4 separate regions of the Homo sapiens genome follow, and all the other regions are linked to region 4. The links come from fine-mapping of genetic effects on gene expression. A gene starts in region 4. Each other region holds a variant in brackets. All regions are shown on one strand. Distances are from middle to middle.

What was found. PIP is the estimated chance that this variant, and not a neighbour inherited with it, causes the effect.
Region 1: its variant is fine-mapped to the expression of AP3S1 in whole blood (TOPMed, PIP above 0.99). The same link has a PIP of 0.9 or more in blood mononuclear cells.
Region 2: its variant is fine-mapped to the expression of AP3S1 in blood mononuclear cells (TOPMed, PIP 0.98). The same link has a PIP of 0.9 or more in monocytes after LPS, monocytes after Pam3CSK4 and monocytes after R848.
Region 3: its variant is fine-mapped to the expression of AP3S1 in whole blood (TOPMed, PIP 0.97).

What each region holds. Positions count from the first base shown.
Region 1 is chr5:115,906,063-115,908,752 of GRCh38, forward strand. All of the region lies in intron 5 of AP3S1 (adaptor related protein complex 3 subunit sigma 1), which reads left to right. Among named protein-coding and RNA genes, the nearest start is that of LINCADL, 49 kb to the right of the region's middle. The variant A/C (reference allele first, on the strand shown) is at 1,363.
Region 2 is chr5:115,940,025-115,942,714 of GRCh38, forward strand. No RefSeq gene overlaps it. Among named protein-coding and RNA genes, the nearest start is that of LINCADL, 15 kb to the right of the region's middle. The variant G/T (reference allele first, on the strand shown) is at 1,356.
Region 3 is chr5:115,943,706-115,946,395 of GRCh38, forward strand. No RefSeq gene overlaps it. Among named protein-coding and RNA genes, the nearest start is that of LINCADL, 12 kb to the right of the region's middle. The variant C/A (reference allele first, on the strand shown) is at 1,552.
Region 4 is chr5:115,840,622-115,843,295 of GRCh38, forward strand. It overlaps AP3S1 (adaptor related protein complex 3 subunit sigma 1), which reads left to right and starts at 1,314. Exons shown (of 6, transcript NM_001284.4): 1 at 1,314-1,485. The coding sequence starts at 1,417. ATG12 (autophagy related 12) reads right to left here and starts at 944. Exons shown (of 4, transcript NM_004707.4): 1 at 769-944. The coding sequence starts at 931. RefSeq lists enhancers at 1-307, 311-1,212, 601-900, 911-960, 1,951-2,160 and silencers at 1,191-1,570, 1,671-1,860.

The DNA of each region.
Region 1 (2,690 bases), 65 kb after region 4:
CGCAAGAATCGCCCGATTCCGGGAGGCGGAGGTTGCAGTGAGCTGATATTGCACCACTGCACTCCAGCCTGCGTGACAGAGTAAGACTCCGTCTCAAAAACAAACACACAAAAAAAGACTTGTTTAAAATCGAGAATGTCATGATTGATGAAAAGAACTGGTTATCAATATTTTTAAAAATTATTTAAGTAATATCTTAGGAACATCATTTATATTTAAAAATCAGTCTGGGTATAATTGAGACACAGCTTTTTAAACATAACATGCATTTATCTAGGGGCCTTTGTCAGAAATCAGAGCTTTTATTATGTTGGTCTAAAGTTAGTACATTTCTGGTAATGGAAAAAAGTGAACCAGTTTAATTCCCAATACCTAGACAGGTGGAAGCAAAGCTCTGCCAGATCCTGAAAGAGAGAAGCAAAGATATACTCTGAATGTATTTCCATCTATTCTATTTTGATAGAAAAATGGTTTACTATAACATTGGAATATTGGGAGAGGAGGGTTTAAGCTGGGAGGTTGATGGGATTCGGGGGAAGTATAAGAGGCACTCAGGAACCTGCCTAAGAATAAAAGGACTCCCTGGGGGTGGAGGTAGAGGGGTGGGGTTGGGGAGATCTGTTAGCTTTTATGTATTTCATGTTATTCTTAAGATGGATAAATGGGTCTGAATTTAGTCACTACTTTTTGAAAGTCAGTCCTCTTTTTTTTCCGAACATCCTGATCTTTCTAGCTCTTTCCATTCTTCTCTCTTACAGACCTTTATCTTTCAGTCTCCCAGACAGGACAGGTAGACAAGGTATTGCTGACTTTGAGAAATATGTACTATAACAAAGGGAAAGCAAAATGATGTCAAAGGCAATTAATTATTTAGGCCAGACTCAAAAATTCTTTGTGTTAATAAACCCATATAGTCCCTGTAGCCTATTTTCCATTCTAGTTTCTCCTTGTAGTTTCTTCATCTTTTATTGGACTTAGTGTATTTTACTAGTATATCATTGATGTCATGTTTGTTCTGTTTTGTCTGCCTGCATTGTAAAAGGAAAGTTTAAATTTTTTTTAAACACTTGTCATCTAACTGACAAATTGCATTTGCAGAAGTGACAATTTACTTTGTATATAAAAACGTAAAATTTATTTTGAGCATCATATAGCAGAACCAATCTTAATTTAACTCTCACAGATTTGTTTTTTTTCCATCTCTAAATTAGGATTCTAACATAAAATTGCCTGCTGGGTTTTGGAAGCTGTGAATTTAAAAACCAAAAGCTGAACCTTCAGAGTTTTGCATACAAAATGGGAAGCAGTGAAGGCTTAGAATAGTGACTGTTAAATAGTACTTTTTCCCCTCAAATGGTTTTC[A/C]GTTCCAAAGTCTTAACAGAATTGCTTTTACAGTTTTGACCTGCAGGTGCATATTAACAGTGGCCAACAGAAAATAAGATCAGAAATCTTATAAAACTTGACTGTATTTCAAACTAGAATGCTCGAAAAATGGAATTACCAAATTACCAAATCACCAAAATACAATGGGTTTTCATTGTAGCAAACCTTCTGACATCCAAACATGTCATAATCAGAATCAATAAAAATATATTAATGTTTTAGTATTGAATTAAAAACCCTGAATATTTTTGCAAAGCGTATTGGCAAATATTGGAAATATTTTTAATAGACCTCTAGTTTTACAAAACTAATTTTTCTTCTGATATTTCCTGTACGTTTTTTCACACCATAAATTAACTGTGTGAATTACTTTTTTAAAAGTTCCATGTACGTGGTGATGAGCAACTATTTTGTGTGAAACCATGTAAGCAAAAGAAATGTTTATAAGGTCTCTGATTGAAAATTTCAAAATAAAAGTAATTTATTGAGTCCTATGGAGGAAAAAATGTATAAACTTACGAAGTTAGATTATGCACTTACTAATTAGAAAAACATCACTGAGAATTGATGATTGTGGTGATATCACAAAGCATTGCCTTTTAGCCACTAAATTTTTACTTACTCTCTCGATGTGTTTGAGAAGAAGTAGCAACATACAGGTGGCTTTATAGTATCTTATTTTGAGATTGTGGGCTATGTCACAAAACTGGGGTACCGTTTTTGGTCCCTCTATCCATGTTATTTTGTCCCTCATATAGAGAATACATAGTAGTCTCATTCTCACCATTGGTCAGAATTATTGCCAGTTTCTGTGTTACAGTATGTAATTTATTACTGCTATTTTCCAGCAAAGAACCATTAATCACTTGGGTCTGTTAACTTTATTGCTAGAACTGTTAATTGGCCTTTTTTAAAAAAAATCAAGTTTCTGTTTTCAAAGAGGAGAGAATAAGAAAAGTGGCTCTAAGGTACTGATGGTGGAAGGTCAGCTCATGAGCTGGTTCTGCCTCTCTACCTTGACATACACATTTGTCTTGTACTTCTACAAAATTATGGTGAGAACCCTTGAGGTCACTTGTAATGGTCAAAACTAGTAATGATAAATCCATGAAAGTCATTAGTCTGCTCTCTTTTTTTCATGCAGGCAAATCCTATGTTTGAAATTAAAGCTATAATTGAAGATAATCCGTACAAAATGACTAATAATTTGGAAGGTTTTTTAAATTTTTGAGCACTCTAATTTTGTTAAAACTGTGAAACACCATAGTTATTGCTGTCTAGAGAATTGTCATGAGCTTATCTAAATG
Region 2 (2,690 bases), 99 kb after region 4:
TAAACCTAATTCTGCTGGCAAAATAGATAAATTGAGGTAGATATTCATTTTACAAAATGATCCAATGCAGTATTCTTTTAAACATGCCCCCCATATGTTTTAAAAGTATTATTCAATTTATAAAAATGGAATTCACACACAACTTTCAGGAATTCACCTACAATTAGCAAATACACATTTCTGTAATGTCTCCTGTGTACAAAGCTCTGTGTTAGGCACCACAGGGATTGCAGAACCCCAGCTCCACTATGAAGTAATATATGACCTTGAAGAAAACTTTATTCGTCCTGCCTCCCAAAGCTACCGTCTTCCAGGCTCACAGAATCGGTGGTGGCAGCATTTTTCTTTTTGAGGTGTGTCCAAGGTCAAGGTTTGAAGTAGTTAGGAAGAAAATCTGATAAGAAGAAAAACAAAACCCAATAATGAAAACAACATATGGAATAGGGAGAAAAGTCAAGGAGAATTTACATTTCTAAAGATGCTATGTTTCTGGCCAGGGGAAATAATACATTTTGCCAGTTGGCTTCATGGTGTCCCAATCTGGGCCCAGACACAGATGGAACAGATGTTGGAGCTTCTTCCTGGAACTGTATGGCCAGACTCTTATCCCTTAAGATTCTCTGACTTAATCCTTGAAGAGACTGGAACTTCCTGGTCTCTGAATTCATGCATGTTCTTATCCAGAGGTAACAATGCTGAGGCTGTGCTCTGCTCTTATGGGACTAACAAGTGCACCATGTTCTTGGCAGTCCCTCTTTCTTTCTTTCTTTTTTTTTTTTTGAGACGGAGTCTCGCTCTGTCGCCCAGGCTGGAGTGCAGTGGCGCGATCTCGGCTGACTGCAACCTCCGCCTCCCGGGTTCGAGCAATTCTCCTGCCTCAGCCTCCTGAGTAGCTGGGATTACAGGCGCCCGCCACCACGCCCAGCTAATTTTTGTATTTTTAGTAGAGACGGGGTTTCACCATGTTGGTCGGGCTGGTCTCGAACCCCTGACTTCGTGATCCACCCGCCTCAGCCTCCCAAAGTGCTGGGATTACAGGCATAAGCCACCGCGCCCAGCTGGCAGTCCCTCTTCCTTAATGCATTCCTTAGACACTGCCGCTCCTAGGAAGTTGCTTATGTTTCAGCTTCACCCTTTCCCTCCCTCTTCCTGTCAGTAGGACATGCCTTTCTCACCACATTGGAAATTCCCCTTGAATTTTGTTAGAGTCAGTGTACAGTCAACATTTGTGGGCCTGGCCATATCTACATGTCCTTAGCAAACTAGAAATCTCCATAGGCTTGAGGGGAAGTTAATGAAACATGAACTGACCACACTAACATTTCACAACCAGGAAAGTCTTACAGAAATGAAAT[G/T]GAAAATGAATTAAAATATCAAGATCGAGGCTTAAAAAAATGTGAGAAGAGCACTGATATCCCATGTGGAAAACATAGGGGACTGTTCTAGTTATTTTAGGAAGAATCGGCTCACAGCTGAGAGATGCTCACAGCTGAGCGTTCTGAGCAACTTGCACACTGGGGCAGGGGGAGGAAGGGCAGAAGGAGAAGATGTGAACTGTCGGCCCGAGCGTTTCATGGACACTCCTCTCATAGCAGAGCTCCTGAGCTGCTAGGAATCTTTACTTCAGGTTGAGTCATCTGAGCTCATACTTAAAATAATAATGATAATAATAATAGCAACCTATATGAATCATATTGTACTTAAGTTTCAATTTCTTTTTTTTTCTTTTTATTACACTTTAAGTTCTAGGGTACATGTGCACAACCTGCAGGTTTGTTACATATGTATACCTGTGCCATGTTGGTTTGCTGCACCCATTAATTTGTCATTTACGTTAGGTATTTCTCCTAATGCTATCCCTCCCCCATTCCCCCACCCCACAACGGGCCCCAGTGTGTGATGTTCCCTGCCCTGTGTCCAAGTGTTCTCTTTGTTCAGTTCCCACCTGTGAGTGAGAACATGCAGTGTTTGGTTTTCTGTCCTTGTGATAGTTGGCTCAGAATTATGGTTTCCAGCTTCATCCATGTCCCTACAAAGGACATGAACTCATCCTTTTTTATGGCTGCATAGTATTCCATGGTGGATATATGCCACATTTTCATAATCCAGTCTATCACTGATGGACATTTGGGTTGGTTCCAAGCCTTTGCTATTGCGAATAGTGCCGCAATAAACATACCTGTGCATGTGTCTTTATGGTAGCATGATTTATAATCCTTTGGGTACATACCCAGTAATGGGATGGCTGGATAAAATGATATTTCTAGTTCTAGATCCTTGAGGAATCACCACACTATCTTCCATAATGGTTGAACTAGTTTACAGTCCCACCAACAGTGTAAAAGTGTTCCTATTTCTCCACATCCTCTCCAGCATCAGTTGTTTCCTGACTTTTTAATGATCGCCATTCTAAGTGGCCTGAGATGGTATCTCATTGTGGTTTTGATTTGCTGTTCTCTGCTGACCAGTGATGATGAGCATTTTTTCATGTGTCTGTTGCCTGCATAAAGGTATTCTTTTGAAAAGTGTCTGTTCATATCCTTTGCCCACTTTTTGATAGGGTTGTTTGATTTTTTTCTTGTAAATTTGTTTAAGTTCTTTGTAGATTCTGGATATTAGCCCGTTGTCACATGGGTAGATTGCAAAAATTTTCTTCCATTCTGTAGGTTGCCTGTTCACTCTGATGGTAG
Region 3 (2,690 bases), 100 kb after region 4:
CTCTTTTCCTAATTGAATACCCTTTATTTCTTTCTCCTGCCTGATTGCCCTGGCCAGAGCTTCCAAAGCTATGTTGAATAGGAGTGGTGAGAGAGGGCATCCCTGTCTTGTGCCAGTTTTCAAAGGGAATGCTTCCAGTTTTTGCCCATTCAGTATGATATTGGCTGTGGGTTTGTCATAAATAGCTCTTCTTATTTTGAGATACATTCCATCAATACCTAGTTTATTTAGAGTTTTTAGCATGAAACACTATTGAATGTTGTCGAAGGCCTTTTGCATATATTGAGATAATCATGTGGTTTTTGTCTTTGGTTCTGTTTATGTGATGGATTACATTTATTGATTTGCGTATGTTGAACCAGCTTTGCATCCCAGGGATGAAGCCAACCTGATCATGGTGGATAAGCTTTTTGATGTGCTGCTGGATTCGATTTGCCAGTATTTTATTGAGGATTTTTGCATCGACGTTCATCAGGGATATTGGTCTAAAGTTCTCTGTTTTTTTGTTGTGTCTCTGCCAGGCTTTGGTATCAGGATGATGCTGGCCTCATATTTTTGTTGCAGAAGATCCAGAGGATGAGAAAATATTTTAAGAAGAAAGTGAAACACAGGCTTAATTTCTATACTCCAGTGATAAGCAGATATTTTATATGCATTGAATCTTTCCATTTTAACATATTTAAATGCTGCTTTTTTAAATAACATGTTATGGATATATACCACGCAAATAAATAGAGCTTATCATTATAATTTTAGTGTCTATATATATTCTACTATATGGCTGCATGACCAGTTACTTAATCTTCCATTAATGGGTATGTGAGTTATTTTCAGTGTTTTGATATTGAAACAATGATATGTGGTGTGCATGAACCTTCTCTCCAGGGCCCCGCCATTAATGCCTCTCTGCTTCGATACCCCCCATTCACAAGTGTTTCCACTACAATTTACACATTCCAGAGTAGGAAATTGGATTGCATCAGCTTGGGTTGAGTGTCAACACTGGATCAATTGCGTTTGATGAAAGGGCCCCACTGTGCATCAAAGCTATTCCCACAGTAAAAGGAATCCATGTGACTGGGAAGCCCATCCATGAGGTATCTGCTCAGCTGGCTGTAGCCCTTGAGGTCAATTATTAATGTCTCAATCTCCAGCACTTAACACAGTGCCTGGCACAGAATAGATGCTCCATAAATCCTTACTTGCTGGATGGATGGATAAACGTTAGTGGCAAGCTCAGTCTTGCTGCCTAACTTGTAAAGGCGCTCATGTCTGCAATTCTGACTTCCTTTTCAAGAGATGAGATTAAAAGACTTGAATGGGACGAGGAATAAAGAGGCATTCCTCCCTCCTTGGTGTGGACTAACCCGTCAGTGTGGTAGACACAGGTATGAACCGTTGAGATCCCCCTTCAAGGAAGGATTTGCTGACAAGCAGTGATAGTGCAATCAGAAACAGTCTACAGCTGTTAGCTTCTTCTAGTTTTGCCTCAGCTGCAGAGACTCACTTTGCCCAAAGTCATGCCCATCCTGGGCACTGTGCATCTGGTGA[C/A]TGAACAAGGCCTGGCCATTTGTTTCAGGAATATAAAGCCCTGGATATTTGTTTTGGGACAACTCTGAAGGACCATACCCACTCTAGAGCTCCCTGCTGGGTTGACCTACATTGCTGTTGACTTCTCCCTCTACCTAATCCTGCTTTAACCCCCTCCCGTCATAGGTATTGATCCCTAATAAACATCTTGCAACCCAAACTCCATCTCAGCATCTGTTTCTGGAGAACCAATCCTACAACATTTAGCTTACTGTACTGCATGCCCTGCATTTATCAAATATGTATAATAAATTGGAAAAGTTGGGCCGTTCAAGAATGTACAACTTCTGCACCTAACCCTGGCCCTCACTAGCCTCAAGGAGCCTATTCCAGAATCATTTTAGAAGGAGTAGTGTTAGTGATGGCAGTAAATTTCTTTTTTCTTTTTTTTTTGAGAGGGAGTCTGGCTCTGTCGCCCAGGCTGGAGTGCAGTGGTGCGATCTCAGCTCACTGCAAGCTCTGCCTCCCGGGTTCAAGCCATTCTCCTGCCTCAGCCTCCCGAGTAGCTGGGACTACAGGCACCCACCACCACCCCTGGCTAATTTTTTGTATTTTTTAGTAGAGACGGGGTTTCATCATGTTAGCTAGGATGGTCTCCATCTCCTGACCACATGATCCACCCACTATGGGCTCCCAAAGTGCTGGGATTACAGGCGTGAGCCAGCACATCTGGCCTGATGACAGTAAATTTCTAATTCATGTTGACAACATCACTAGGAAGATATCTAGGGCCACAGAACCCCTGGACAGAAAACACTGGAATTTCTGCTAGTAAGTGGGCAAAGTGGTATCTTTGGGGCATTACCATACATGTGACCTCATTTATGTACAAAACCTGGATATATTCAAAGGCCAGTACATATAGATAGCTTTAAGGTCATCATTTGGTGGTAGCAGAATTCCTGAGCCTTCAGACTTCCACTCTGGGTTACTTGCCACTGCTCTTGGCTTCCATGTTTGTTAGGCCAGATAGAAAGCACAGAGCCTCATTGTCCTTGTTTCCGGCCCACTCTCTGCTCTTTCAGGGTGGCCCCGCCTGGCATTACAGTAGCAGTAGGGAGTTTTCGCGGTACAGGCTGAGGTGACAGGCAGTGATGGGA
Region 4 (2,674 bases):
GAACGGGGAAAACGTCTAAGGACGAAATCAGCCTCTCTGAATCGAGGATGCTTATATGCTGCTTTTCCCATAGGCAACTCTAACTCTAAACAGAGTGCTTTAGAACACGTAATTTTAGCAATCTCTTTTACAAAGGGAAACATTCTCAAGCAATAAAGGGTTGAGGATAGCTGACTCAAGCAATGAAATAACTCACAAAGGTTCCAAAATGTGTTTCTTAAAAAGGTAACATCTATGCCTTTAGCTTTCCCTTAGCAGTCTTCATTCTGCATAAGAATTTGGTTTTTGGTTTAAGGAGTGAATTCACAACCAACTGGGAGGGGGAAAAAAGCAAAAGCGAGTTAAGTTGGAAGGCATGAATTCTAATCCAGGCTTTGCCAATGACCACCCCTACCACCATAAAACATTACTCAAATAATTAGCTCCTGTGTTAAGTACCTGGAATTACCGAGACCCCCCTCCCCCCGCCCCACTCAGCTCCCTCCCTCCTTCAAAGAGCTCGCAGTCTGGCCAACTCAAAAAAATACAGTATAAAAATAAGTGTGGCAGCCAAGTATCAGGCCCTACACCGATAGACAGAGATGGTATTTTAACACTCAACTTAAAGGCCTTAAAAATCAAAAAGTACACTTCTTTTCTTCTGATGACTGGTCAAAATGCAGGTCTAGGACAGGCGCTCCTCTAAATTTTGCTTCTTTACTGGCCGCCACCCCTACTCGGATGCAATCTGAACCTCCCGCCTCTCTGCCCGGAAATAAATTCAGTTACTTTTTTTCTTGGTGTCGCCAGCAGGTTCCTCTGTTCCCGGGGAAACTGCAGCGGAAGACGGGGGCTCCGGGGTGGTTGTTTCTGGGGAGACATCCGTAAGTCCTTCCCCTCCAGCAGCAATTGAAGTAGGAAGCTGCAACACAGACTGCGGCTCCTCCGCCATCTTGCTTGGAGACACTCGAGAGCGGAAGTAGCGACTGAGCGCGTGCAGTGGGCGTGCTTTTCTCCAGGGAGCGTCGCAAAGGAGGCGCCGGAGTAGGGGGACGCAATTACACAGTGAAACTTGGTGTTCCCGGCTAGTCATTCAAATCGAAGCTGTCGCAGACCTCTGAACGTTAGTAACGCAACATGTGTTTCTCCGCGACTACAGACCTCGGGAGAGGAGCGGTGGGCAACGTGTCTGTGCTCGGTCGAATGCGCACACTCCAGTTAGGCCGCTGGCTCGGACCTAGAAATGTTTCCGCTTTCCTTAGTGCCTGCCCCGCCCAGGCCCCGCCCCTTGGGCCCCGCCCGACGGCTCGGGAGCGCGCGCGGTCGCGTGCGGGAGGGGGCGGGTGGGGAAGGATCGCAGGCGAGATTACGAGGCGAGGCTCGCGCGCCCGCCCCCGCCCTGGCCCCCAGTGCCCACCCGGTCGGCCCGGCACAGCCATGATCAAGGCGATCCTAATCTTCAACAACCACGGGAAGCCGCGGCTCTCCAAGTTCTACCAGCCCTACGTGAGTATCCAGCCGCCGCTGATCCGGGCGAGGGGGAGTCGTTGGCGACGGGCAGCGCCCAGCGCGGCTTTCTCAGAGCGACCCCCTCCGGCGCGCTGCGGCCCTTGTCCCGTCCCGGCCGCCTGGCGCTCGCCAGCTGTCAGCCTCCTGGTGGGTGTGGACAGGGTGCCCACCTCCCTGCCGCGCGGTCAGCCACCGACGTGGCTTTGCCCGGGCGGTTCCTCCGCCCGTCGGTGGGCTGCATGCTTTCCTGGCTGCGCGGGCGAGGCCCTGGAGACTTCCCGGGGCCCGGCCCTCGCCGATCGGGCAGCCGCAGCCCAGCCGCGCCGCGGAGCCCTGCGCCCAGTCCCCAAGAGCCCACCCCGCGCGGCTGCCTTCCTGCCGCCCGCGGCTGCAGTTAGCCCGGGAGGAGGAAGACGGCGTGGAACTCGTTCTTCTCGCCCCCCTCCGCCGACTCCCATCCTTTCCAGGTGGACTTCTTTCTGTTCTTTGGACAGATGGGCTACCGTTTTTCACTGTGGTCCTCTCATAGCACAGGAACTTTGGCTTCCTGCGTTTGATAACTGCACGTTCTGTACAGTCTCTCTTCTGCATGTTTCGATACGTGACAGACTGCCCAGTGTGACTTTCAGGTGTCTCCTTATTGAAAAGGAAGATATGTGAGGACCTAATATTTTTATCAGGCTTTTTACCAGCTGGCTGCAAATTATTTACCCTCGAAGTAACCGGCGACGTTTGTAGTTGACTGATTGGAGCTGTGGTTCTATACCTAAAAGTTATGATTTCAGCTTCTGGTTTGGCATTTTTCCACGTATGGGAATTTGCCCTCATTTATAGTTTTTTTCTATTTATGAAGAATAGTAGCATTTGTAGAACTTCTCTTTTAACGTGTAAATACTGTTTAGTATGGACAAGTGCAGGAGGCATTAAGGTAGTAGAGATAAGTGATTTGTTGATGATCGAGGAAGGGTTTTATAGAGTTATGTGCTTACCTGAGGGCAGAATTCGCTAGCTGAAACACATAAAATTGGACTCCCAGTGGTAGGATTAATGTGAGGTATAACTGTTGTGTGGTATTGTGGCACTTTGCTTATAGCAAGAAATGAGCTTTCAATTCAATTTTGAAATTGTGCCAAGGCTAACACTTTTATGCAGATAAGTCCCAGATGGAAATCAATCTTGCCATTAC